2 separate regions of the Homo sapiens genome follow, and region 1 is linked to region 2. Evidence: fine-mapped expression QTL. A gene starts in region 2. The other region holds a variant in brackets. All regions are shown on one strand. Distances are between the middles of the regions.

What was found. PIP is the estimated chance that this variant, and not a neighbour inherited with it, causes the effect.
Region 1: its variant is fine-mapped to the expression of TAFA5 in aorta (GTEx, PIP above 0.99).

What each region holds. Positions count from the first base shown.
Region 1 is chr22:48,572,205-48,587,230 of GRCh38, forward strand. All of the region lies in intron 1 of TAFA5 (TAFA chemokine like family member 5), which reads left to right. It overlaps LOC124900480 (a long non-coding RNA gene), which reads left to right and starts at 4,836. Exons shown (of 2, transcript XR_007068144.1): 1 at 4,836-5,465. RefSeq lists an enhancer at 4,942-5,448. The variant G/T (reference allele first, on the strand shown) is at 7,514.
Region 2 is chr22:48,482,604-48,497,629 of GRCh38, forward strand. It overlaps TAFA5 (TAFA chemokine like family member 5), which reads left to right and starts at 6,950. Exons shown (of 4, transcript NM_001082967.3): 1 at 6,950-7,101. The coding sequence starts at 6,990. RefSeq lists enhancers at 9,028-9,533, 12,503-13,363, 14,226-15,026.

The sequences.
Region 1 (15,026 bases), 90 kb after region 2:
AGTGATCTCTGCCTGCTAGGTCCTGTCTGTATAGGAATAAAGGTTGAAGTGTGTGTAGTGACCGGTCAGTGTGAATCACCTCTACCCTGTGTAGCCCAACAGGCTTCTCACTTGACCATGAGCACTTACTGTATTCCCTGGGAATGAGCAAGGTGTGTAGACAGATGGGCCACCCTGGAAGTGGGCATGCAGCCGATGGGCAAACAGGGTCCCCACATTTGCTGGTGCTGGCGGCTTGACCCTAGGGACAGGTGTTTTTGTGCATTTCACTCTTGGGAGGAATTGTGCTACCTTTGGACCTGCTGACCCTGCTTCTCATGAGTGACCAAAGTCCTTAACTCTGCTCTGCCCTGGTTTTTTCTTAGACCTTGAGTTTTTCACTCCAGAAGCAGGTTCCTGGCTTTTTTTGTGTGCCATGGGCCTGTTTGGAAGTCTGGTGAAGCCTGTGCCACCCATCTCAGGACAAACTAAAAATACCTGATGAAGAAGATCAATTATATCCACATGCAGTTAGCAAATGGTAAAAAGCCTATTTTTGATACAGTAATGTGTTTTCTTTATGAACACATTACATACAAAGTCTAGTAGTGGGACGACCATAATTTGAAGTAATGGTGAAAATAAGCAATAGACTGAGATAGCTACAAGAGCTGTAATGTGATATGAAAATACCTGTGCTTTTTGTTGGTGACAAAGTCATAGTTATGGCTGAAGTATTGTGTTTACTGCCTACATGCCTAACTGAAGGCAGTGTTAAATTTCGTTTAGAGACATGTTAAATGCTCACTTTCTCCATCCAAAGTCCCACACCTCAGGCACTGTGGGGACTGTCCCCGGGCAGAAGGCACCCCCTCTGTGGACAGCTTTCCTCTGGCCCTGGTCTGAGCTACACTAGCCTTAAAGCAGCAGTTTGCAGGGGTTTGGGGGAAGACACACCCACCCGGCACTGTGGAAGTGCAGCTCTTTGGCCAAGTGCCCTCCTGCCTGGACACCTGGCCATGCCCCTGGTTTGTTTCACCTTCTCGGGAGGATGTGGGCATCCTTCTGTTGGTTCCCACCACAGTTTTTTCTCTTCTGTCCAGAGACTGGGCCCAGGACCCCCTCACCCTTTCTGGCTTGCTTAGATTTTGATTAGCATTTTGATTCCCAACACAGTAATGGTTTCAGTATTTGTAAAGGGTTTTTCCTGTCATGTCAATGAGAACCCTAGGTGTCTCCTCCTGAGATGTGTGTTGGTTTTATCTGGTTCAGGTGTTCACACTGCCATCTGGAGCTGACTTCCCAATGGCACCCAGGGCCTCTTTGGTCTGCACTGTTAACTCACTCTTCGGAAGCCCTACACGAGGTTCTTGAGTTTGCAGCTGTGATTGCTTTTAAAAGTGTAAGCAATGCCACATGCATTTACTAACAGGAAGCCTTGGTGCCCGGAGAAGTGTGATGGTGGTCCCCCAACATTAGGTATGGAGGTCCTCCTGTCCCACCTGTTGAAAGTGAATTGGTGGGCCTGCCTCTATTTATGAACTTTCTTTTTTTTCTCCTTTATCCTCTTTAATTCTCTTTACAGAAGGATCTTCCAATTGTAGTTCTTAAATATTCCCTTGGTGAACGTAGCACACTTTTCTATTTTCAGAATTTCAAATGATATGCACCTGATTGGGGACACAGTGAGTGTCAAGGGCAGGCTCTCTCTCCTGATTGAGGTCCCTTTGGGGGCCAGGGGTGAGCACATGTGATAAGCACCCAGAAGACCCCCGAGTCCTCTGACTGGGGAGCCCTGTGCCAGGTGAGGGATGAAGGCCAACGACCTTGCTGGAGGTCAGGCTCTGCGAGCCAGGCAGGGTGGGTTCCTGAGGAGCTGCTACCTTAGATCTTTCCTAGAGAATGTCTAGGGGTGGAGAGCAGGAAACAGTGGGGTGCTTATAGGAAATGGGGTTTTGAAGGGGATTGCCTGAGCAGAGAGAATGGCTAGTCCCTCCCAGGGCAGATCCACAGCTGCTTAGTTGCTTGGCTGGTGTGAGGCTGGGGCCACTCCTTTAGGTGAGAGGAGTTGGATGGGACATTCTTGTCTCTCCTGGATGTTTTCGGGGGCAGGTGGAGGGTGATGAGCCAGAGGTGAAGAACTGCTTCGTGGATGGCCTCTCCCCTGGCCGGCTGCTGGGCACCGCGAGCCAGGTCAGGCAGACAGCATCAAGCTTAGTGGCTGGTCCTGACTCTGCCCTTGACTTTTTAGTTGATGTTAGACCAGTCACCATGCCTCTATAAGCCTCAGTTTCCCCAGATGCATACTGATTGCCTTGATCTATCTGACCTCCAAGAGCCCTTCAGGGCCAGGCCTCTTTCCCTTCCTGGCACGTCAATACTGGTGCAAGGAGGAGACAGCCTTCATGTGAACCACATGCACCGCGGGCACCAGCACTGCCCCCACCCTGCACAGGTCAGGAGAGAGGTTCAGGGTCCCAGGAAGCTTAGGCCCCGATTCCTGCCCACTGCTCTTTTCTGGTCATTTGAAATTGAATTTCAAATTCAATTCAGGCAAAAATACCTTGAGGCCCACCACACTGGTCTTGGTACTGGGCTCTGGGGCGAACCCCTGACGAGGACACCTGTGCCCCCTGCTCTGGGGAGCGGGGTTGGGGAGCAAAAGTGGCCTAAAACAAAGACCCTTTCTTCCTAGAGGCGGGAAGGGAGGCAGTGCAGGGAGGCATCCGTTTGTTTCCTCTGGAACGGAACGTGGGCATTAACAGTGCGCCCACGCTCTTGGGTGCAGGGCAGCTGGCTGGAGGGTGGTACACAGTAGGGGCAGGTGTGAGTGTGTTTGTGTGTGTTTCCAGGCAGATGTGCCGTTTTCAGAAGCCGCGGGACCAGCCTCCTCCGAGCCCTCCCAGCCGCTGGTCGGGCCCGGCTGGGGCGGTACCTGGGCCTGGGGTTTCCCTGTCTCTCCTGGGGCCTTGGGTGCGAGGGAGGCTGGGCGCCACTCGAGGCCCCGCGTCCGGTCTCCCGCGCCAGCAGGGCCGGCTCTGCAGTGAGGCCCCTGCGCACCTAGGTGGAGCCCGACCCGCAGTTTTCGGCTGGGCCGGCCCCACCTGACCCGCCGGCGCGCCAGGCGGGGGCGCTGCAGGGCGGGGTCCCCGGGGTCCCTCGCGGCCCAGTGCGCATCCGCGGCTCCGCGGCCGGGAGGAGCGCAGACGGCGGCGGGCGCGGGCCGGAGTCCGAGGCTGCGCGGGCCCGGCCACCTGGGCCGGCAGCGACTGCGCCGCGCTCCCCCTCCCGCCGCCTCCCCCGAGGAGCCGGCGCCGAGCCGAGCGGGCGGGCGCGCGCCTCCAGGCCGGAGCAGCGGCGTCCCGCGGGCGGCGAGGCGCGCAGCGTCGCCGGCCCCACCTGTAGGCGCGGCAGCCACCGGCACCGGCACCGACACCGGCAGCGGCGGCCCAGCGTGGGCAGCCCAGGGGCGCGGTGGGCCCGGACCTAGTCCCGGCCGCGGCGGCGGAGGCGCGGGCTGCTGGGAGCGCAGAGGCCGGCACCGTCCGGTGGGGACCGGCCCGCCAGCCCCGGGCCGCGCAAGTTCGATCGCCGCGGGCTCGGCCGGGCCGCGCGGACCCCGGCGGCGGCGATGGTGCGGCAGCCCCGCGCCCGGCGCGCAGCCCCGGCCCCGAGCCTGGCCCGCCGCGGCGGCGGTGGCGGCGGCGGCGCGGCGGCCCCCTGAGCCCCGGGCCGGAGCGAGCGCGGGCGGCGGAGGAGGCGGCGGCGGCGGAGGAAGAGGAGGAGGAGGAAGGCGACGCCGAGCAGCGGGCGGTGGGGGCCGACAGGCGGAGGAGGGGGCCGGGGCCGCGCCGGACCCCCCCCCCCCCCGCGCCGCCCGGCCGTTGCGCAATCCGCGGCCCGCCGTCCGGGCCCTGCTGGCGGTGCGGCTCCGGGGGCGGCGGCGGGGCTGATTCATGGGGCCGCGGCGGCCGCCCCCCGGCGCCCCGCAGCCAGCGATGGTGGCCGAGTGGTCGGAGCGGCGGCCGCCGCGGCCCGAGACTTTCTGCTAACCTCCCCGCCCCCGCCCGCCCCCTCCGCGGCGCCCCCCTCCCCCCGCCCGCTCCCCTCCCCCCTGCCCAGAAAGACACAAATCGCCTCCCGGAGTGGCGCCTCCAGTCGCGGCGGAGCGCGGCGTTGGCGGCGGATGGAGGGCGCGAGCGGGCGGCCGCGGAGGCTGCACCCGGCGGGGCGCTGATGCGGCGCCTGGACCTTCGCTGCGCGACTTCGGGGGCGTCGGCCGAGTTGGGACTCCGCGATGCAGCTCCTGAAGGCGCTCTGGGCACTGGCAGGGGCCGCGCTCTGCTGCTTCCTCGTCCTAGTGATCCACGCGCAGTTCCTCAAAGAAGGTAATTGTCCCCGGGCGCGCGGACCGGTCCTCCGCGCTCTGCCCGGCTCGCGGCGGCTCCGGCGCCCGACCCGGCTTCCAGCACGTTCCGCTGCCGCCGCGCTCGGCTGAGGCTCGTGGAGCGCCACTGCGGGCCCGGAGCGGCCGGCGGCGCGACCCTACCAGGAGCCCGACCCCCCGCGGATCTCGCTGCCCCGCGCCCATCGGGGCTCACCGGCAGGGCGCGGGGTCGGGGCGCGCTGCGTTCTCGGTGCCTCTGGCGCCGCCCCGGATCCCCAGCCCAAGCCGAGGCTGCCGTTCCCATCCCCTGCCCCACTGGGCTCGGTGGCAGCGGCGCCCGCCCGCACGCCGCCGGGCCCTCGGTAGATGGCACCAGCGCTCCACGGTGGCCGGCCGGGCTGGGGCGGGAGCGGAGCTGGGACCCGCCAGGGTGGGCGCCGGGCTGGGACCCGCGGACGTCGGGAAACCGGCCTGCGCACCTGTTCCCCAGGGCCCAAGCCGCCTTCCAGAGACCCATAGGTTTGGGAAGCAGGGGCTTGGTCACCGGGGTGCGCAGGTCCCCGCGCCAAGTTCTGCCCCTGCTCTCTTGGTCTTTGCTGGACTGCAGGGCAGTCTGGGACTATTGAGGCGCCCAGGATAACGGTTGGACCCTCGTGGCTGGAGAGGCCCTTTGTACTGGGAAGCATCTTACTGGGGGTTGGGGGCAGGGCCACACCTCCCCTGATGGGCGGTCGGTCGGCTCCAGGCACCCCAGACACACTCCTGGAAACTTCCTGGTTTCAGGGCCAGGCTCCCTTTGCAGGGCTCCCGGTGCACCCCGGGATCAGCCTGGCCTGTCATATCAGACTGGGGGCAACTGAGGCGTTGGCCTCCCCCCGGGCACCCCTGCTCATGGTTACTAGTGCTCTGGCACACAGGCTGGGCCAGCTCCGCCTGGTGCTCCCCTTGGTCCGCTGGGAAGGCTGAGCACCGGAGGGCGCCTGTGTGGCTGGTAAGGCGCTGGGTTCTCATTAGTTCTGGGTTCCTGCAGAGGAAGGGCTTGCAACATTCAGCTGCTTTCCTGACTAATTAATGAGCCGCCGGAGGCCTGGGGAAGCAGGTAGGTGCAGGAGCCCGGCCCGAGACCCTGTGACCTCCACGGGCCTGGTGTCCACTTCCCTCCCTTGCTTTTGGATGTGGGCACCTAGTACAGAGGAGGGCCAGGTCTGAAGGGAGAGTAGGCTACCCCAGGACTCTGCTGCGGGCTTGGCCTGCCAGCCCGGGCTTGCGGGGACCCTTCCCCAGGTGGGAGGCCCAACTTCTTCCTGCTGCCTTGCTGACCCACTTCAGGAGTGGGTGGTTCTGCCATAGGGCAGTAGCACTTGGGGCTGGGGAGGCCATCCTTCCTGCTGAGGAGTCATTGGGTCCAGGCAAGCCCGCGAGGGCTGTCCTCTGCTGGTGTCGCGTGTCAGGACTGTGGGAGCCACCCCTGGTGCATTCCAGGTACCTGGCAAAGGGGTCCCTGCTCTGCTGGGCCTGTTTGTGTTCGCGCTGCAAGTTCTCTGCCTCTCTGGCTGATCTCGAAGTCTCTGGGGGATTGGCTTGCGGAAAGGGCGTGTATGTGAAAATTTCAGTGTTTCTCTGAGGTCCAGGTGCCCAGCTGCATCCTGACACTCTGTGATGAAGTGAAGTTCCACTGACTTTGAAGCTGTGAGTTAGTAACGGGAGAAGCTCCTGGCCATGTGGCCGGCCTGTGACAAGGGCTTCCTTTCTGCCTCGCCCTGCGGCGCTGCCCCAGTGCAGGTGCCTCCGGGGGCTCTGCTGTCCCCCTGAGGCTCCAGGTCTAAAGGACTCTGTTTTTTGGCCAAGAAGAAAGAGTTTCTGTCTCCCAGATGGGAGGGTCTAGGTGTGGAGCAGGCCTCGCTTAGTGGAGTACTTTTTGTGGATTTAGCCCTTCACAGAGATCTCCATGTTTACCTTGAAGCAGACACACGTGTGTCGGTGTTGTGGAAGACGGCGCAGTCATAGGAAGGTGGGATGAGGATGGGGTCAGCTGTACGCTGAGGGCACAGGTACCTTTGGAGGAGCGATTGCGGGTCCCAGTGTTTGCGCAGCCCTCCAGGACTCCTGAAGTCCTGTCTCCCTGTCCGGAAGCGGTGGCCTTCACCACCCTGGGTTGAGCCCTGCTGCCTGTCTGTCTGGAAGGTCAGGACTTGGGCAGCCTCCCTGTCCTTGCTGAGACGGCCTTTTGGCCCCTTGGCATCAGGAGCCCCAGGGGAGGCCTGGGGGACCAGCAGTGAGAGGTGCAGGGAGGGGGGTGGCCGACTCTGGTTCCTGGCTGATGGGCTCGGCCTGGGGCCACTCTCCTCCCAGCAGCCGCTGTCCAGCAGGAGGGAGGGAACAAGGCAGGCGGGTGGACAATTGTGACTTGTTGTCTGGGCCTGAGTGGGAAAGAGCTGTTTAAATAGCCATTTTCATGAATCTGTTTTCTTCAGGGGTGAAGAATGGGGGACCCAGGGAGCCGTTTTTCCACACTTCTCCTTTTGTGTGGAGATAGAGGCCACCCCGTGGCTAATCCGTCCCCCCCTGGCCACTCTGGTCTTCCAGTGTTTGTGGAGATGAATAGGGCTGTGAACCGAGAGAGAGGCAAATTGCGGTCCATAATTGCAGCCTCGGTATGTCCCAGCTTTGTGAGAACAGGTCCTGCCCACCGCACCAGGCCTGGCTGGGCAGCCACAGGCCCAGGAAGAAAGCAGGGCCGCAGCGTGGGGTCCGGCACTGGGGCCTGGGCAGCTGCTCTTCTTGCCTTGTCATCCTTAGGACACGCTGACCCTCCTCTGGGAGGGGAGAGCCGTCCTTTCTTCTGAACTGCCTGGTGTGTGCACGTGCTGTGTCTGCATGGGGTGTAGTTAAAGTGGGGGACGAGGGCGGGAATCCCAGGACCCTGATGGAAGAGCCGGCCGCTTCCTTAGGGTGCAGACGACGTGTGTCACGGAGACGCGAGAGGGAAGCCAGCACTTTATCTCCATCATCATGTTTGGCCTCCAAATACGGAGTTAAGGAAACGGCGAGAAGTATAAAAATATTTTCCACCTCCCTCTTCCAAAGACTTTACAATATTTTTCTGGAAGTCTTGAGTCACTTGGACTCCAGCACTCCAGCACAGAT[G/T]AGCAGGCTTTGGTGTGGAAGCTTAATGTAAACAGAAGGATAGGAAAATACTTCAAAGAGGAAGGAATGCGGCAAGCCTGGGCCACCCAGGCAGGCCACAGCGGCAGAGAGGTTTCTGGGCTTTGGCACCCAAAGGGACATGAGAAAGCCGGGAAATCATTCGGCCCGATCCTTTCTGAATGGGAGGGAGAACCCAGTGCCTCTTTCCTTTAAATGTGGGTTTGAGGTTCAACTCTATCTCGGTAAATCCTTTTGGTGGCAGGGGAGTGCATTCGACGGCTTGAACGTGCTGTGCAAAAGCCTCTTTTGCAGGTTAATATTGAGAACTTTGCGTCCAGCGGCCGCGGCACGGTGTACCCGGGCCTCGATTCCAGAAGCGCTTTCAGAACCGCTGTGGCGTGCCTGTCTTTGAGCAGCTGCTCGGAGGGCAGACTGTTGATTGAGTCAACGGATTCAACTTCCATTGATTTAGTTAGCTGGCTCTTTCGGAAATGAGGCGTCCTCCTGCAAACCCATGTGGCCCGTAACAAGGGGCATGCTCAGCTCCGTGAAGGCAATTGATGGTGTATGAATGGTTATGGCTCCGCGCAGTCATCATTAATTGATGCTGTCTTTACAAGATTAGCAGCCAATGCAGAGTGTTCGTCTATCTGTTAGATGGATCAGTTTATTTTTTAAGAAATGGATAGAGAACTTCTTAGGAGACACAGCACAGTTCCCGGCCCTAAGACTCCATCAAAAATATTTGCTGAATGCGTACAGCCATTCTGTCCCAGAGGCATAGAGCTAGGGCTGTGGATGGTCCATGATGGGTTGGGTGAGGGCTTGGTAGATGCCCTTGAGGTTTCCCAGAGCAGCAAGGCTGTTCTTGGTGAGGGCTCGAGGCTGCACCGGGCTCCATTCTGAGTGTCTAACGGTGGAGGAGGAACTCACTGCACGCGGTGTGTGTGGAAGGAGGAGGGAGTTCGGCAGCTCTGTGTTCTCAATGCTTACGGCCAGCTGTGCCTGCACCCCTGCACCCAGTCTTGGCATGGGGCTGCCCCGGCCGCCAGGCTCCGAGCTTGGAGCTGGCTGCTCATTTCTCCCTGAGTCTCAGACTGCGTGTGGAGGGGTGCTGGGCTTTGTCTAGGGGCCCCAGGGGCTTCCCTAGCCCACTTCCTGGGTGCATTGTTTTTATGGCCCTGATGAGGTGTGCAGGCAGACAGAGCGCAGGGGCATCGCAGTGCCAGCCCCACATGGCAGGTGTCCCTCAGCCTGCCTCTCCCTGACCCTCCAGCAGACGCTGTTTGCAAGGCCAGGTAGGTGTGAATGGCTGCTGGGAGGGGTGGAAATGAAAAGGCGTTAAAAATAACCAACTCTTTTATCATCATTTACTATCATTTCTTGTGTGACACAGAATCTAAATAAAACCCACACTCACCGTAATGGGATTCTCATCTGCTGTGTCTCTGACAACTGTAAAAGTTAGAATATAAAAGGACTGGAAATGGAGGTGACTTCCAGACACAAGGTGGCTCATCACAGCCTTGCTGGGCACAGGAGTCCCAGCCTCCCAGGCCTCCCTGCAAGGGCCGAGCCAGTCCCTGCCGAGGGCCAGGCTGGCAGTGGACGGACGGGGCCAGCTGGGGGTCCCTCCCACTGCACACTCGGGAGGATTGGATTGCGGCTGATCTTGCCGCCGGCATCTGTGGAAACTCATCAGTCTCCCATGTTGCTGCCGTGCTGAGCACAGTGCGAGAAAGCCGTGCGGAGAATGGTTTTATTCCCCACTCGGTGGTCTGGAGGTGGGTGGTTTTTGCCCGTCTCTGGGCGCGCGGAGCTGTAGGAGAGGGGCCACTGGCGAGGCCGTGTCCGTGCTCAGTAGAGTGCTGGCTGCAGACACAGCCCAAGAGCCCCTGGGCCTGGAGAAGGCCGGGTTCGGGGGCAACCTTCTTGGAAGGGTTCACTGCTGACATGTTCATGTGTGTGCATATGTGTGTGTGTACACGTGCCTGCTTATGCATAACTAAATGCTCATAGGTGTTCATATCATTGTGTGTGATCTTCTTAAACATAAACTACAGGATCATGCATTATAAACCTCATTTAAAATACAGCCCCTTCGTTAGGGAGCAGCGCACGCAGGCAGTGGTGTTCCTGTGTTCCTGGAGAGGGGAGGGAGGCATCCTCACCTTATTTACGCAGAGACACATAGTTTTGTGGCTGCACTGCGATCTGAGCAGACAGAAAACATGGAGCGAAGCACGCAGCTGTGGGTCTGCGTGGAACATGGGACTGTTCGCTCACACACGCACCCAGTGAGTGGACAGGGCTCCTTTGAGACCAACCATGGGACCCGGTAGCCTTTGTACTGTGGGAGCCCTGACCTGCCTGTCGGGGCAGGCGGCCCTTTCCTCGTTCTCCTTTTACCTGGGCTCTGTGTGTGAGCCCACCTCTCCCAGAGACACGCACTGCGGTGCCCCCCAACAGAGACACACCACACACTACACGATGCACACACCCACACCACACAAAAAACACAACGCATACCATACACCCCACATACTGCACACACTACACACCATATGCTGCACACCACATACACACCCCACACGCAAAATACACCACATACCACACACAAAATACACCACACACAAAATACACCACGTACCACACACAAAATACACCACATACCACACACAAAATACACCACACACAAAATACACCACATACCACACACAAAATACACCACATACCACACACAAAATACACCACACACAAAATACACCACACACCACACACAAAATACACTACACACAAAATACACCACACACAAAATACACCACATACCACACACAAAATACACCACACACAAAATACGCCACATACCACACACAAAATACACCACACGCCACACACAAAATACACCACACACCACACACAAAATATACCACACACACCACACACAAAATACACCACACACGAAATACACCACACACCACACACAAAATACACCACACACTACACTCAAAATACACCACACACAAAATACAGTACACACCACACACAAAATACACCACACACACCACACACAAAATACACCACACATGAAATACACCACACACCACACACAATAAACCACACACAAAATACACCACACACACCACACGCAAAATACACCACACACACTGCACACAAAGTACACCACACACAAAATACACCACACACGCCACACACGAAATACACCACATGCCACACACACACCACACACCACACACAAAATACACCACACACAAAATAAACCACACACAAAATACACCACACACCACATGCAAAATACACCACACACACCGCACACAAAGTACACCACACACAAAATACACCACACACCCCACACACAAAATACACCACACGCCACACACACATCACACGCCACACACACACCACACACCACACACAAAATATACCACACACCACACACACAGTGCACTCCAAACACAAAATATACACATACCACACACCACATACAAAATACACCACACACCGCACACACACCACACACTATACACACACCACACACCACACACAAAATACACCACACACCACACACACACCACACACTATACACAAAATACGCACACCAGTGCACACCAAACACAAAATATACACATACCACACACCACATACAAAATACACCACACACCACACACAAAATACGCCACACACACACCACACACACAGTACCCACCGCACACAAAATATACACATACCACACACCACATACAAAATACACCACACACCACACAGTGCAACCAAACACAAAATATACACATACCACACACCACATACAAAATACACCACACACACCACACATCACGCACACACACCACACACCAAATATACACACACCACACCCCACACACGAAATACACCATACACAAACCACACACAAAATACACCACACACCACACACATGCCTCACATCACACACAAAATATACACACGCCACATCCCACACACACCACACACAAAATGTGCCACACAGACACCACACACACAGTACACGCCACAGAAAATATACCATGCAAACATACCACACAGCACACAACACACCACATACAAAATACACTACATATATACACACGCCACACAAAAAATACACCACACACACACGCAACATCATACACACACGCCACACACCACACAAAATAAACCTCATACACCACACACACACCACACACCACACACCATACACACACCACACACAAAATATACCACACACACCATATACACCTACCCACACATATAACACACCACACACCACACGCCACACACCACACACAAAATACACCACATACACCACACATACCAGACACCACACACCACTCACAAAATATATCACACACACACACCACACACACACACCAATCACATGCACACACCCCCCCACAAAACATCACATACATCATACACACACCACACACCACTCACCACACAAAATACACAACACACAAAATACACCACATACACCACACACATTGGACACCACACACTTACAAAATACATCACACACCACACACACACACACCACACACAGCAGACAGCAGACCACACACACACAAAATACACCACACAGATATCACACACACCACACACACCGTGCACCACACACAGTACACACCACACGCACAGTACACACCACACACATAGATACACATGGCACACAAAATATACTATGTAAATACACCACACACGTACACACCACACACAAAATATACTACACATTCACACCACACACAAAATACACCACACACACACACACATACACACCACACAAAATACACACACATCACACACACTACATGCCATGCACCACACGACACAAAATACACCTCACACACACCACACCACACACGCATGCACACACACCACTCACAAAATACATCACACATGCACCACACACACAGCACAAATCACACACACATACACCACAAACACACACCACACAAAATGCACCACACACCCCACACGCACCATATACACGCACCCTCCACACACACACAACACACCACACACATCACACACGCTACATGCCACTCACCACACAAAATACAGCACACACGCATACACACGTATACAACACACAGCACACAACACGCTAAATACACCACATACCACAAGCACACCATTCACAAAATACATCTCACACACACACACCACACACACACACACAAAATACACTGCACTGATATCACACACACACCACACAGAAAATACATCACACACATTCACATGTACACACACACACCACATGCAGAATACACCACACACACTAGATACCACACGCACACCACTCACAAAAACATCACACACACAGCATACACTACACACACAGCACACACCACGCACACACACACAATACACCACACAGATGCCACACACAACAAAATACACCACACACTAGACACCACACACGACACACTGTGCACACATACCACATGCCAAACACCACACACACACAGAAACCCACAAACATACCACATACACAACATACATACACAGATAATATACCACCTAACCACACACAACACACACACATAAAATACACCACATACACATACAAAATATTCACACACACACACATAAAATACACCACATACACATACAAAATATTCATACACCACACAGCACACACCACACACACCACACACCACATACACACACACAACACATCACACACATGCCACATCCCACACACCACACAAAATACACCACACATACACCACATACAAAATACACCACATACACCATACAAACTAGATACCACACACCACTCACAAAAAACATCACACTGCTCATACCACACAGCACACACCGCAGACACACAATACACCACACAGATACCACACACAACAAAATACACCACACACACTAGACATCACACACACACTATGCATTATGCACACACACCACACACACCACAAACATACACAACGTATACACAGACACAGAATATACCACACACAACACACACACATAACATACACCACATACGCATACCAAATACGCATACCACACACACACCACACATACCCTGTGAAGGCCACGCACACACAAAGCGCAGAAACACACCCCCACACAAACACATGCCAAGACACACACACACAAACATACACCACATGCATGTTATACACACACAGCCAAACATCATAAACACACGTTACACCCATCACACCGCACACACACGATACCCCAAACACCACACAGTCTGCAGCTCACCCCGTGGGCCCAGCCTGGCGTTCTGGAGGAAGGGAGAGGAGGGTGGACCCCAGCTTCGGCCTCTGCCCCTGCAGCCTTGTCCCCATCCTCACCCGGACCCTGACCCTGGCCCTCGCTGGCTGGGCCTCTGCAGAGGCTTCCTGAGGAGGAAGGTACTGCCCTGACCTTCACAGCTGGGGCAAGTGTGGCCCAGTGAGGTCAAGGGAGGGTGCAGATCCCAGAGGATAGCAGGACAGGTGCAGCCACGTGGCTCTCTTCTCTCTATGACCCCAGGCAGAGGTGGCGTGGGTGTTGCCTGGGCATTGCACACGCACCTCCTGCTGCAGGCTGCATCACCCGTCTTGCAGGTCTTGTGCTCCTCCCAAGGGTCACACCCACCTATGCAAATAACCTTTGGGACGAGGAAGCCCCACCTGCAGCATGATACCAGGCTAGTGGCTGGGCTTCTGGGACCCTCGGTCTCCTCTTTGCAGGAAGGGAATGATAAAAGGAGTGGAAGCCCGAGGACTTCCACGGGGGTCCCCTGACAGATGGCCCCAGCAGTGACCTTGTGCAAAACCCAGGAGCCACCCCTGCCAAGTGCTGGGCGTGTCTGTGGAGCAGATGAGGCCACAGGCACTGGCCACAGGACTGCGCTGTCTGGAGAGGGATTCGCACACATTTGCAGGGGTGCAGGGCTGGTGTTCTCAGGATTTTGCCTGGCTTCTCTGGATCCGGAGGTCCTGGGAAGGTGGCTTGGACCCTGGTGGGCGGAGTCTTTGAAGTGCAGTCTGGAATCTTCCATGCACAGTTGGGCGACCTGGACAGTGCCCACTGTGTTCTCTAGAGAGTTCCTCAAGGATGCAGCCCCTTTGTCCAGACACTGTTGCAGGAGGCAGGGAGGGAGGCCTGCCCCATGTCCCCTGGATGGCAGGATGGGCTCCCACCTTGTGTCTGGCTGGGCTGTAGTGTGCGGGGCAGCCAAAAGGCACCCTCCGGGTAATCAAGGCCTACCCCACATGGGGACTCTGGTGAGAACCGGGCCTCCACCGACCCCCTGTCCAGGGTGCAGGAGCCAGGCCCGTGCTGTCAGCTGTGTCTGTTTGTCTGTGGTTTCCCTGTGGCTTCATGGCACATGCAGGTCTCTCTTCATGCTTTGGGTGTGGAAGCCGTCGTCAGCTGAGAGTGTTCTGTGGGTGGGTAGCTCTCCTTCCTCCTGAATTTGGGGTGACCTTCTGTGTGGAGGCCCATGACGGTTTCCCATGCATTCCGGGGC
Region 2 (15,026 bases):
ATCACCTACAGTACTCAGTACACACTGTACAGGTTTGTAGCTGAGAAGCAACAGCCTCAACCTACCATATTGCCTAGGTGTGCAGTAGGTTACACCATCTTGGTTTGGGTAAGTACCTACGTCTATGATGTTCACACAACAACGTTGCCTAACAACACATTTCTCAGAATATATTCCCATTGTTAAGTGATATATCACTGCACACACACACACACACACACACAGCCTATTGGTTCTGTTTCTCTGAAGAACCCCTGTCAATACACCTCCACGAAGCTGTTTAAAATATTGAAAGATACAAAAGATGAGAACCTCCTGGCACATTCCCATTGACAACATACTTAAACCTCCAAGAGGAAACATGGTCACGTGACACATTCAACAATGACAAATGAAAACAATGATTTGTAATATGATTATAACAATATTGTTATATGATGATATTCTTGTTTCTATTTTTTTCTGTTTGAAATTCCCCCAAAATTAAAGGACTATATCCCACAAATAAATTGAAAGAGTTCTTACTAATCAATAATAAAAGACAAACCCACTAGGAGAAAATTTGAAAAAGAATATAAACAGTTGATCTACAAAAGACACTAAAATGACATACATAAAAATTGTTAATCCTTATTAGAGGAATGCAAATGGAAACAACAGTAAAACTTCTTCCTACGGGCAAAATTGTCGAAGGTACTGGCACCAGGGATGATATCTGGTGCTGACGCGAACAGACTGACGTGGCTCCTCTCACGCACTGTCCGTAGGGATGCTAATTAATATTAATATTTTTGGAAATTAATTTGTCAATGTACAGCAAGGCCTCAAAATTGTGTCCTTATTTGGACCTAACAATTCCAGTTCTGTAATTTTTTCTGTAAATAACCATAAATATAGAAAATGATTTCAGTAAAAGGGTGTTCATTTCTGAAGTGTTTTCCAAACACTAGAAGTTGTCTAAATGTCCAAAAATCAAGGTTGATTGAATAAACGGCAGTATTTATGTGTTACAGAATTTCAGGCCGCCAGAAAACACAATGTTCTGGAAGAATATATAATTCCGTGAAATAATATTCACTGTGTACTAAGAAAACTGTGTAAAAAATATTTACAGGATGAACATATATGTGAAAAAAGATGTGAAAGATATTAACAAAATGCTAAATGTGGTGAACTCAGCGTGGCAGAATTGAGGAACATTCTGTATTCCTTTTGCTTGTCTCCCCATTTTGTATTTTTTTAATGAACGAGATTTGGTGATGAGAGGCCGTGGGCACAGCCGTCAGGGCAGGTCCTCTGGAGCACACCACCTGGATCCCAACCTCAGCTCCCATGGCTGCCTACAAATCCCAGGACAATTGCCTGCAGGCCTCCTTGCCCCAGGTTCAACGTCCTTAAATCCAGGTATCGACTGCCTCCTAGGGCTGTTATGAAGATTAAGTGAGTGAGTATATGGGGGAACTTGGACTAGTGCCTGGCCCTTAGTATGGGATGTATCAATATTACTTATTGTCATTACTACACTGGATCAATAAAATGGATAATTATCATTCAATCGTGCATTCATGTCATTTACCAACTGTCTGCAAAGCACTGTTTTCAGGGCTGAGAATTCAGCACCAAAGTGGCCTCTGTTCTCACGGGGCACACAGTCTGTGCCTGCTGGGCCTCGCCCCTCCTCCCTGTGCGTCTTTTGGCCTTTTGTGCTTCTCTTTCCTGCATGCTGCAGCTCTTCTCTCGGCCTGGAAGCTGCTGAGGAAGTGCCTGAGCTCTCTACTGGTCAAGTCCATTCCCAGCAGCTGGAGGGGCCCATCTTAACGGCTATCCCTGCTACTTCCCTGATCTGCCTGCCTGCCTTCCTCCCTCCCCTCCCCTCCCCTCCCCTCCCTCCTTCTCCTTCCTTCTCCTTCCTTCTCCTTCCTTCCTTCCTTCCTGACAGGGTCTCCTCTGTCACCCAGACTGGATTGCAATTATACAATCAGAGCTCACTGTAGACTCGAACTCATGGGCTCAAGCGATTCTCCCACCTTAACCTCTGAATCCCTTCCCTCCCCTCCCCTCCCCTTCCCTCCCCTCCCCCACTCCCCTCCCCTCCCCCCTCCCTCCCTCCTTCCCTCCCTTCCTTCCTTCCTGACAGGGTCTCCACTATCACCCATGCCGGAGTAGTTATACAGTCAGAGCTCACTGCAGCCTCGAACTCATGGGCTCAAGTGATACTCCCACTTCAACCTCTGAATCCCTTCCCTTCCCTCCCCTCCCCTCTCCTCCCTCCCTCCCTCCTTCTCTTCCTTCTCCTTCCTTCCCTCCCTCCTTCCTTCCTTCCTTCTCGACAGGGTCTCCTCTATCGCCCACGCCAGAGTACAGTTATACAGTCAGAGCTCACTGCAGCCTCGAACTCATGGGCTCAAGCGATCCACCCACCTCAGCCTCCCAAGTAGCTGTGACTACAGGTGTGTGCCACCATGCTGCCTAACTTTTTGATTTTTTGTAGAGATGGGGGTCTTGCTCTGTTGCCCAGGCTGGTCTTGAATTCCTGGCCTCAAGCTACCCTCTCCTCTTGGCCTGCCAAAGTGCTAGAATTATAGGCGGGAACCACCACACCCAGCCATGCCCAGGTTCTCTAGCCAGAAGCCTGGGGAGTCACTTGGGACATCTCTGCCATGCCCACCACTCCGGAGTCCCCATAGCCTGTCAGTTCTACTTCCTGGATAGCTGCCAAGCCCCCCACATCCCTGCCTTGACAGCTGCTCCTGAGAAGCCAGCCACCCCGGCTCTCATCTGGATCTTCCCAGCCACTGCCAAGCTGGCTCAATTCTCTCTGCCAACCTGGGTCCTCCCCCAGCTGTCAGAGTAACCTCTTGGTAAAATGCACATGGGATATGTGTGTGGAAGGTGAAAGCCTGCAATTGTTTTCAGAGGGAGGCACAGATCCCTGGGAGAGCAGGCACAATAGCCCGCTACAGCCCCCACCTTTCGCGACCTGCTGTTCAGAGACCTGTGTGCTTCCTTTAGGAGATAGCGCTGGCCTTGCATAAAATACATTTTTTCTCCCACTGTATCAGCAGGGACATCCTGACATCTCACCCCGTGAAAACATTCAGCTCCAAATTCAGTATCTCAGCAAGCCCTTGGTCAGTTGGGCACCCGCAACCTAATGGCAAATAGAAAACACCCTCACCGCAGGGAGGAGTGGAGAGAGAACAACCCACCCCCGCCGACCACAGCAGAACACAGCGAGCAGTGGGCTCACATCCCCAGGAGGACAGCGAGGCTGCCACCTGACTGCAGTACGTGCCTGGGTCCGCACCCTGGTCAGCCGCCCCTCCTCTCTGGGTAACGCCCCTTTTTCTATTGCCCTCCTCCGACACCCTGGGTGCCCCGCCATGCAGGATGCCCCTTCTATGGGTCAGGCCTCTGAAGCAGTCCCAGGACTGGTGGCTTGGTGTGGGGTGAGAGCCGAGGACTCCCTCAAGGGTTACACCATTGCCATCCCCTGCGTTTTTGGGTAGGAGTTAAGGTGATGGTGTGATTCCTTAATAGACTTATTTAGGTTTCAAAATCTAAACTCCTGTCAGTTCTGGCTAGTAATCAAAACCAGCCCATCAACAACAACAACAAAATCGTCAATCCGTAGCGTGTGTTGCGATCCAGAGCAGAGCTTTCTGTTCCCTAGCAACCGAATTCAGGCTGCGCTCACCCCCCATCCTCAATTTCCATCTTGGTCTCTCTCTCCAGGCCTCTGGAAACAAGGCCGGGATGGGGCTGGACCAGGCACCTGCCCTTGCCTTCGGGCTGCCCGGGGGTGGTGTCTTTGTAATTACCTCAAGGTTGCTGTCCCAGGGAGACCCCATCTCTTCAATCTGATCTCGGACCCCACACCTCCCCCCTGCCTCCCCACTCCTCAGGTCCGTCTACTTGTAACCTGGGGTGGAGAATTCACCTTTTCTAGCGTCACCATTTTCAGACTCTCCACCATTCTAGACTCCAAGTCATAAGCACCAAGGGCTCCCCTTCCATTCCCTTTTTCTGGAAATATTCAGCATGTAATGAACCAGGCACTGCTCTCCCATAGCCCAAGGTTCCCCGCCATAGCCCTAATGTTGCGAGCACAAAAACCTCAGTGTCTGAGTTCCTGGATACAGCAGGCCGGGTACCGCACTGCACCCCTTCTCCTCTGCTTGGGAGCCCTCCCCAGCCACCCCATTGTCACCACAGCCCCTGTCCTTTGGCAAGAAGCCTCCAATATACCCTCCCAAAGTCAAGGTAGACTGCATCTCTCTTCAAACCATATTTTTTAAAGAAAGAAAATTACTATAAACCAAATTATTGGGAGGGCAACCAGCATTTCAAAAATGAATTAGGATACAATAGAAAACATCAGAGTATTTTTGGGGTAAATATTGCTTCGGAAAGTTTCACTCCAAGCATGTTTGTGCATGCGTGTGTGCATGTGTGTTAAAGCATGTGTGTGCATGTATGTGCGTGTGTGTGGATGTGTGTGCCTGTGTGTTCACGTGCGTGTGTGTGTTCATGTATGTGCATATATGTGTGCATGTGTGTGTGTGTTTGTCCTAAGGATGGACCAAAAGGGCCTGGAAACCAGTCTCCTGGAAGCCTTCCCTGGCACACACCTTGCTGTGTTCTAGAGTGTGATTTTAGGGTAAATGCTCCTCTCTTGTGCTCCAAGAGTGCTCTCCTCTCCCTCCCATCGTGACGCTTGCCACACTGCACTGGAATTGTTTGTTTCCTTGTCTGTTTCTCAAACTGACTGTCACTTTCCAGGGGGACAGAAAATCTATGTCTTGTTGGCTTCCCCAGTCCCAGTGCCTGGCCCAAGTAGTTGCTCAATAAACAGAGGTTGAATGAAGGAATGTCTGGCACAGGAGTTCGGGATGGACAGGATGAATTGGAATCTGTAACATTTTAAAAGCCACATCCTTTTTAGCAGGAAAAAAGGCTTCAATGAAAGGAATGAAATTGTAAGGGTGGAGACCTGGGCATCAATGGCTGACTCCACAGAATCCCATTGAGGGAGCCCCTCCCTGCCAGGGTCCCAGGCCCACCCTGCACATCCAGAGGCAAGAGGTACGTCCCTCATGGCCACCCCAAAGTTGTCAGGAGCCCCAACTTCTGCAGAATCACCTCCCTGCCAGGAAAGAGAGCGGGGAGAAGCTGCAGTTGAGAAGATACTAAACAGGAAAGTCAGCGTTTTAATTAAACAGGATTCAAAATTGATGGGAGAAAACAAGCATGGACACAATCATATTAACACAAGAATCCCGTCAGAGCCCCTGGCAAGGAAGCTTCAGTGCACAACAACCACTGGGACGGGGGTTAGAGGACTCGCAGTGAGAGGCTGCCTTTCTTTGCTCAGTTTCTCCTAAAGTGTTGTGTGTGTGTGGATGGGAGAGTGTGTGTGTGTGTGTGTGTGTGTGTGTGTGTGAGAGAGAGAGAGAGAGATTCAAGGAAAATATGTGTGTGTGTGGTGCTGTGTGTGCATTGGGGCATGAATGCTTGCATGCATGAGTTGTGGGTGAGTGTACGGCTGGGGACAGTCCACATCCCTTCACCTCCCTGGACCAGGCCTCAAGATGAAGGGATGATGCTTCTTCTCCCTGGTTGCTCAATCTGACTTGCAGGCCCTCTACTGGCTCCTCAGAAAAGGGTCTCCAGCGCCAAAAGAATCTCCTGGGGTGCTCAAGCCCCCAGCCCTATGCAGGATGGAGAATATCTTGTGAGTTCCAGAGGAGGGGTTCTATTAGTCGTGTGCACGAACCTGCAGGAAGGCAGAGCTTGGGGTGGTGCTGTGGCAGCTACCGGCAGGGGCCAGAGCCTCTCCAGGCAGCAGGGCCATCTGGACATCCTGGACTGGGGAGCGTATCTCCTGGGCTGTAGAGGGAGGTGCAGAGGGGACATGACTAGGAGGGTTGGAGATGGGGAAAGTGTCCTTGTGTCCTTACAAGGCTCATTTTCCCCCCATCCTTTGCTTGTTATAGGAGTGAACCTGTCTTGCAGATGATCGTTGACTATGCAGGTAAAATAGATTGCGATCATTGTCATCCTGCTCAGAAAACCCACCTGGATAGGACCAGTCCTGGGACTGGGAGCCCGGAGACGCCACTGAGAGCCGGTCCTGCAGGGACTCCAGGGAGATGAACCAGGAGATGGCTCAGCAAGGACCAGGCAGTGGCAGAGGTGCCCGAGTAGAGTGATCGTGGGGCAGAGGACTGAGGGAAAGTGCGTGCCTGTGCCTGGCAGTGCCGCCCCAGGTGGAGGAGGAGCCCTCAGGGTGGTGGGCTTCCGATGAAGGGTGACTCTGCTGGGGTCTGAGGCTGTGCTCCCAGTGGACTCAGGGACCCCACTGCACAAGCCCGATTTTGGGTAACAGGGCACACCTAGGGAACAGGCCCAGAGCACCCTCTCCTTGGAATAAACTCCGGATCCAAGTCCCAGAACCCACCTTAGGAGGCGTCTGCCGCCCCCGCCCCCTCCCCAGCCTTCCAGGCCCTGGCTGCGGTGGATGGGGGCGCGGAAGGCCCAAGTGCGCGAACTTCACCTGGCCCGGCCGTCCTCCCCGTGGGGGGCCCAGGCTGCGGGCGCGTCAGGCCGTCTCTGTCGCCATCCGGAGGAGCGGCTTGGGCGCCGCGTCCCCTCTGCCAGGCCCGGGTCGGCGGGCGGCTGGAGCCCCCAGCGGTGGCGGGCGCGCGCCTCTCTCGCGGATGCCGGGGCGCGCGTAGCCGGGGCGCGCAGTGACGCCCAGAGCGGGGCCGGCGTCCCCCTGGCGGGCCGGCGCGGGGTCGGCGGGCGCGGGCGCGAGCGCGGGCGGCGCGGGCGCGGCGCGGGGCGCGGTGGGCCGGGGCCCGGGCGCGGCGGCGGCGGCGGCGGAGGATGGCGCGCGCGGGGCCCGCACGTGGAGGCCGGCGCGGGGGCGCGGGCAGGGCCGGCTGCTGAGACGCGCTGCTGCCCCCCGCGCGGGCGCCGCGGCTTCAATGGCGCCATCGCCCAGGACCGGCAGCCGGCAAGATGCGACCGCCCTGCCCAGCATGTCCTCAACTTTCTGGGCGTTCATGATCCTGGCCAGCCTGCTCATCGCCTACTGCAGTGAGTACCGCGCGGCCCCGGCCCCGGCACGGCCCTCTGGGCCCCGGACCCCCTCCTCCGGCCCCGGCAGGCGCCCCGCGGGCCTCCCGGAGTCGGCGCGGAGTTACGAGCGCCGGGCGCATGGTCCCCCGAGTCCCGGCCGGTCCAACGCTGCGCTGGGCGGGCGAGAGGGTCCACCCGGGTTCCGGGCGCTCGAGCACTTCGGGGTCGGACGCCCCGGCCCGAGCCTCCCTTCCCTGACTCCCCGGCAGGGCCCGGGCTCCAGGCCCCGGGTGGCGCGGCCCGTCCCTGCCCGGCGGTCGGAGCCCAGCCAGCGGCTTCCCGGCCGAGATGCGCGCTCAGGAGGCAGCCGCAGGTCGCGGAGGGCGGGCGGCGCTGCCGGGGTGTCTGCGGAGCGCCCTCCCCGTGCCTCAGCCCGGGACAAGGGGGGAGGCGGCGGCCGAGCCCGGAGAGGAGCTCTTCAGGCAGGAGCCCAGCCTGGGCTCGGAGGAGCAGCTGGAGCTTCCGCTTTCCCGGGAAACGGGCTCGTCAGGCGCCTTCTGGAAAGAGAAGCGAAGTGAGGGATGGGATGCCCGGAGGGGGCTCGCCGCGGCCGCGGACGTTTCTCGGGTCGTGTCTGGGGCCCGAGCTGGTGACCGGCGGGACTGGCGCGGGCGCGGGCTGGGGTGGTGCGGGCCAGTGGGCGCCCGGGCGTGAGCTGAGGGCTGGGGTAGGGGGTGACCGCCGCGGGCTCCCTGTTGCCTGGAGTGAAGGGTGGGGGGTGGCCTGTGCCCCTGCCGAGGCTCCAGGCGGGTGGAATGAGGGGTGGTTGGAGTCCCGGGTGCAGACTCCAGCCTCGGCGCTGGGGAGGGTGCTCAGCATCCCGGGGCACGTTCGCGGCTGGTGGGGTAAGTGGGGGCCGCTCAGCGTCCCGGGCACAGGCTCTGGCCCCAGATGGCGCGGGCTGGTCGGCTTCAGCTCCGGGAGCTCCGGGCTTCTTGTCTTCAGCGGGAGAATAGGACGGGTGCTGGGGAGCACCTGTCATGGAGAATTGCCATGGGCGCGGGAGGTGATGGAAAAATATGGATTCTTTACAAAAAAAAAAAAAAAAGGCCAGCACCGAACCTCCCTCCACAGACACCACCTCCTCCAGAGCCCCGGGCCTCCAAGCTCCCAGTCCGATCTGATCCTTCCGCTGTCGCCAAAATGAGAGCACAGTGGCCCAGGGAGACCCGGGCAGCCGCGGGATCGGCCTCCGGAGTCCTGGGACAGCCCAGCTCGCCAGGATCGCAAGGGAAACCCGGGGACCAGAGCAGGAATTTTCCTACTTGCTTCAGCGCGGTTATGCATTTCCCTAGAAATGCTGTGGCACCGAGCGGGGAGGGGTCGCCAAGCCTGGGGGTCTCAACCCGAGCTGCCCAGGCAGACGAGGCCACCGTGGGTGCGCCGGCGCCCCTGGGAACTCACTGGCTGGCCGCCTGCAGGGAGCAGGGTCTGGGGGTTTGAGCGACATTTGTGCCTGCCCCCGAGTTTTCCGCGGCCGTCACGGGGCCTGCAGGGGTATGTGGGGGGATTCCCTAGAAGATCCCCAAGCAAGGCTTCCTAGGAGATGTAGAAAGGGTTAATGGCAGGTAAACTCTGTGCGGAAGAGGAGGCATTTGAATGCACTTCCTGGTGGCATCACCCCAGAGGAGAGGAGAGAGAGGAGAGGAGAGGGAGAGGGGGCTCATTCAGCAGTGTTTGGGGAGGGGCTGTAGTGCCCTGAGCCCACTACAGGCGGCCCATCCCTGGCTGGCTGCTAGAACCCAGGACAACACCTCACCCCCAACCCCCAGCAGCTCAGCAGGTGTGGAAAAGAACAACTGCTAATTGTTGCGAAGTACTTGACACCAGGGCCCTGTGGCTTCAACACCGCACTTCCCGAGCCCGCGAGGAGCGCGGTACACACTGTCTCAAGACACGCAGCGTCAGCCCTCTCCCACCCTGCGCTGCATCCTGAATCCTAAGGTGTCAGCACGTTGTTCATCCGGACGGGCTCACACCTTCCTGAGACTGTCGCCTGCTCTGCCGAGTGGAGTCCTGGTGTCCCAGCACAGACATCTGAGCCTGCTGCTTAGACACGCTGAGGATGGGAGATCTGGTTTCCACACTCATCCCTCCTCCTTAGGAGGCCTCCCCAGCGTTCTGGAAACAGCCTTTCGCCAGGACAAGGACAATTGGTAAGAAGGTCTTACCAGAGTAGCAGAAATAATTAATAACAGAAGCTTGGGTGAAGCACATTTTTTATGGCTGTTTCCATCTCCATGTAATGGAATAATTGACAATAAGAGACACACCCCATTACACCAGAAATGTACTTGGAGAAATTAAAACATTTCACTAAAATACAAAATAGACATAATAATAATTTATAGCTTGGAACTGCAGTCCTAGAGAAAAAAAATCCCCCCCCCTTTTTTCAGAACCGATAAAGCAAATTAAATGCAAATTAAACAGTTCCTAGGATTTTCATTCTTTCTTCCAATAGATCTGGGATGAAGAAGAATAGTTCGTATTCTCGTTTGTAAATTGTTTTTGTCATCAGTAAGGATTTTTATTACTCAAAATGTCTTTGTGTTATGAAGCAGATATATTTGTATCATATTAATTAGGGAAACTGATAAGTATCATACAGCGTTCAATTATCCTGCCTATTAAATCTGTGTGTTTCTCTGCAACACATAAGGTGCTGGCTTCCTAGTGCAGCTAGGAGGAAACTGGATTCTTTCTTGGCCTGGTTTTCTGTTGGGGGGATTCTACTGTTCTTGGCCCAGTGAGAGTCCGGCCTTCTTTCTTTCTCGTGTGCTGGGATCCATATAGAAGGAGATGGGCTCCACCGTCTGGCCGGAGAAAGACCTGCAGTCCACCAATTAGGCTAGTTGCTATAGTGACACAGCCTTGTCATTTTCTCCTCCTGGGGAAGAAGTGCCAGGAGACGCAAACAGGGGAAAGGGGCCCTGGATGGCTCACTTTAAAATGCATGCTCGGTGGTCTGCGACCATCACGGTGACAGCAGGCTTGGTTTCCTCCGCGGCCGGTGCTGCCCATGAGGGTTGTTGGATGGTTGGTAATAAGTTGACTTGCATGATGATGAGCTTTGATGGGGAAGTTGAAGCTCTTCTCCATTCTGGTCTGAGGAAACCTCTCTGGGTGTGGCTTAAAAAGAGTTGATATAGGTTGTTTTCCCCTTAGCGTATTTGGAGTAGAGAAGTCTGTCTGCCTAGATGTGGTTCTTGCCTAGATGTGGAATGGGACCTCTTGACCCAGCTAGAGCTGGTTGAGGGTGTTCTGTGCCCGCCGCTGAAGATGTGATCTTTCCACCCTGGCATCTAGGATAGAACAGCAGCAAGGGAGAGAAGCAAATGAGGACCTGGGGCAACTCCCTATGACACCTAAGCACTGACTCGGTCCTTGTGTGCAGCGTTGAAATCAAAGGTGAAGGACACTCTGCACTAGCCTAGATTCCATGTGCCCTATTCAGCACGAGCAGGTGGATGGTGGGGACCCAGACTATATTTCAGCGTACCAGGGAGAGTGAGGAAGACAGACAGGTTCACTATGTGCTGGACATGGAAATTTCCAAATAAATCCCGTCAATATTGAGCTGTACCTTCCAGTTAAATCTCATGTCCTCATCTATAACTATGAGAAGAAATTACAAACAACTTTGGAATTGTTTTGAATCCATTAGAATCCTAACTGAGCGTAGGCACTGTAGTGTTGCATTTCCTTTATAAATACAATTTATTGCATATTTAGGAGCGATTAGAATATGTTACTTTCCTGCTGTTCAAATTTTGTTCTGGAGTTCTCGAAGAGGTAAAATGGAAAACAGTGGAGGCTTAATGAAGTGGTGCCGTTCAGAAGTTTATTTCTCATCTTTTTTTGAAAAAATTCTCACTGTGTTTTTATTTGATGAATTTGGGGCACAAGAAGATGGGATGTTTGTTTTTTTTCAGCTCCATAAATATAAATTATCTGTCTCTGGGATTTCTTTTAGCCGACATCCATGCCCTAGGCTCAGTGAGGAAGAGGCAGGTTTGTCCCCTCACAGGATTTTCCCACGCAGGGACCCCTGGGGGAAGGGACTTCCGAAGGGACCCCTGGGGGAAGGGACTTCCCAGCGGCTCTAGACAGTGCCCTGGAGAGCCGCATTTACTCCTGGTGATCCTGGCGGTGCCCCACTGTCCCCTCCCACCTTCCACCCCTGCTCTTTCACTGAGATAGGGCCAGAAGGGGGGTCTCCACTCTTCCACTGTCCACACAGGTGTCCCTGCTGGACCTCCCTGAGGCCAGAGGACACTTGAACCCAAGAAGGAGGCTCCACCTGATGGGTCTCTTCCATACCAGGCTCCCCAGCTAAGTTCTGCCCCAGAGTTCTGAGCTCAGGATCTGCCACTCGACATGCTCGGAATGAAATATGTAGATCAACTTTTGTGGCATGAAGCATTTTCAGGTGACTTTTATGGGCGTAATTATGGGAAAATGTTATGATAATGTGGCACTAGAAAAGGGAAGAAAAGCAAAACATTAAAATCCCCATTTCTTTATATAGGCTCGCATCTGCGCCGATTTAGAAGGGCTCCTTTTTGCATTAAAATGTGGCGCTCTGGAGTTAATGACCTCTACAGATTGCCACCTGTCACCCGGAGCACTGTCAGCGATGGTCCAGCCCCAGCATTCAGGGTGGAGATGGACAAGGAGGACCAGAATCTGATCAGGTGGCCGGAGTGAGCACTGGGGTGTGGAAAGCCCTGTAGATTGATGACTGTTTGTTAGGAGAACTGTCCTTGAGGCTGTGTCAGGGGCCTGTGTTGGTGCAGATGCAGGGGGCCCATAGCGTCTGGTGTGTCTCTTCTTAAATGCTGCCTTGCACATGGTCCTGGGGCTTCTCCACTGACAAGGGCCCCCTGATCTGCCCCCAGTGTGGATGGTTTCTGTGGAGGCCCTGGATAGGCCTGGAGCCCAGGAACAGCAGCTCCAGCCACCCTGCTCCTCCCTTCCGGACTTCTCCGCCCTAGAATGTGCTAAGACTCACGGCAGCAGCACAAGCTGCCTCGGTGCTGGGCTTTCCAGAAGCGGGCCTGGCAGCTGGCAGCAGATCTGGGCGACTATTCTCGTCTCTCCTTCACCCCGGCGAATGTGGTAGAGGGCTCCCTGAGGCTTTGTAGCGTTTACTTATTTATTAAAATGGCTGGCAGGAATCGGGTGTGGAATTACTTTTATCTCCAACTAGGCGAGCGGGACTCCTCTGGAATCCCCTGGTCCTCCTGGCTCCAGGGAGGCTGAGTTCCAGCTTTGTATGCCAGCAGCATCCTGCGGGACGGTGGGTCTGGGCCCAGTGGGATGGCAGCCCCGCAGTGATTCTCCCTGGAAGAGGCCTCCCTGTCCCTTGGCGTGTCACCTGCCATGGGGTGAGCCTCCGCTTTGGAGGGGCCTGGCTCTGCGGGTCTCCTTCCAGCACTGCTCGAAGGAGGCAGGAGTGGTGGAGCTGGCTGCAGGCTTGCGGGTGAAGCTGGAGACGTGGCTTCCAGGGTATTCATTTAATTAGTCTTGGGTGAGCTCTAGCCATGCGCCAAGCCCCGGGGGCAGAGATGGTCACTCTCCTGGAGCTGACATTCCAGAGGGGAGGGGACAGTCAGTCGGCACAAAGCAAAGGCCGAAGATGATGGGGGAGCAGCCTGGGCTAGGCCCCTGTGTTCTGGTGGGTTCTTCATGCTACCCTTCTGTGTCCCAACCCAGCCGCCACCTCAGAATGTCAGGGACCTCCCAGAGGTGGTGAGAGGCAGCCCAAGATCTAGCTCTGGATCTGGTTTCCATCTGGGGAGGCTCCTCCATCCTTGTTCTCCCTTCCCTGGGCTCCCTGTGCCCCTGGCCCTGCACCCAGCCGGCATGTCCATTCGTTGTCCCAAAGACATCTTGCCCGTCCTCTCTCTGTCTGGGCTGCCGTCACTTGAGACCTCACACCTGCTCTCCCTCCTGAATGTAGCAGCGTCATCCTCAGTGGCTTCTCCGCCTCCAGGCCCCTGCCCTGAACCATAACTTCCCTTGGAAGAACCTGGCTGCCTTCGACCCTCCTCCCCGGCTCTCACCCTCTCCCCTGGCTCACCACACTCAGGGCGCCCAAAGCTGAGCCCTCCGGCCCAGGTGGGAGTCTCCATCCCTCTGTCCAGCCCTGGAGTCCAATCCTGAGAGCAGCCTCCTGCCTACAGGGCCTTCTAGAAGCTTCCCAGGAAGCTGCTTGTGCTCATTCCTCTCCCACATACTCCGGATTGGACATAGGTGCTGTGGTGCTCCTATCGCCCGTGAAGGCCCGGCTTACTCCCTAAATGCAGTGGATGCAGGAAGGCATGGTGAGCTAGGCCAGAAAGTGCCCACCTCATGTCTTAGAGGATCCCCTGCTTCCTGAGGCATCCCCTGAGCATGCATCCCCATCCCCTCTCCAGTGCTGTGCGTGTGTGTTGTGGTGGCCACTGTCGGGGTCACTTTCTTCCTTGTTTTGGGCTGTGAGCTTGGGGCATGGCTGCTGGCCTCGGGGGACTGACTGTGGGCTCTCTGGACAGATGCTTTTGGTCACGGCATCTGCTGGGCAGTGAGCTGTTGGGCTGTGAGCTTGGGGCATGGCTGCTGGCCTCGGGGGACTGACTGTGGGCTCTCTGGACAGATGCTTTTGGTCACGGCATCTGCTGGGCAGTGAGCTGTACGGTGAGGCAGCCACAGGGAACCTCCCAGCTCTCAGTGGGCTGAAGCTCCAGAAGGTCACGTGGATGTGGAAACCCTTCTATACAATGATGTCAACCCTGCAGGCAGAGGAGCCAGGGGAGTCAGGGACGCCTGACCAGCTGTGGGGGACAGAGGAGGGCCCACTTGTGGTAGGCGATGTCTTCTGACGTCACCCACTCCACCCAGAGCTGGGCACAGAGGGGTCTGGCTCTACCTCTGCTGGGACTGCCTGCTCGTTTAGGGCGCTGTGTGGTCCTGGTTTGCAGGTGCACCGCAGGGAGAGTTGTGAAGGGCAGGCGGGGTGGTCCAGCCATCAGGGGCCCTGGTTTCCTGGGGGTTAACGGCGTAGGCTGTGCCACCTAAAGGCACATGCAGGAATCTGTCGCCCACAGCATCTTCATGCTTGGTTCAGGATCTCTGAATGAATATAGGAAAGAAAATACAGAGAAAGCAATACCACTAACACAGTAACAGGCTGCTGTGCTTGCATTTCACCTTCCAGAAAGAGGCTTGGCGCCCCCTCACCTCCCAGCCACCAGGGGAGGAGCTGCTGGACTGGAGGCCCCCTCCTTATGGGGAGCGGTGGGGCTGGTCCCGCACAGGGACTGCAGGCCTGCCTGCCTGACTCCAGGTCTGGGCTTCCTCCCGGTGCCAGCTCCACTCCCCACGGGCTCGGGGCTCCCCAGCAGTGGCCCATCCATGGAAATCAGCCCTGCCAGGGACCATGGCCCCGTTCCGCCCCCGCCTGCGGTGTTCCAGGCCGCGCCTCCCTCCTTCCCGTATGGGCGGACCTTGCCCTGGGTGGAGGGAGGACGCAGGGAGGAGAAGCCGGGGCCTGCGGTCCCACGGGGCCCGGCAGGGTTCTTCCATCTTCAGGGATGCTCCGCAGCCTCGCTGCTGGTTTCTGGGCCAGCCCCTTGCCCCTGTTTCTGCACTCGTAGAACAGCTCTAGAAAAGACGGCATTTCCGCCTCAGCGCAGCCAAGAAGCTTGAAAGACAAGACTGGAGTGTCCAGTGGCCAGGGGTCATCAGTCTGGGTTTAGGCCTGGGGGCGGGGCTGAGGCCTGGGGGCGGGGCTGAGGGTCAGAGGAGTAGCTGGAATCCTGGGGGCGGGGCTGAGGCCTGGGGGCGGGGCTGAGGGTCAGAGGAGTAGCTGGAATCCTGGGGGCGGGGCTGGAGGCCTG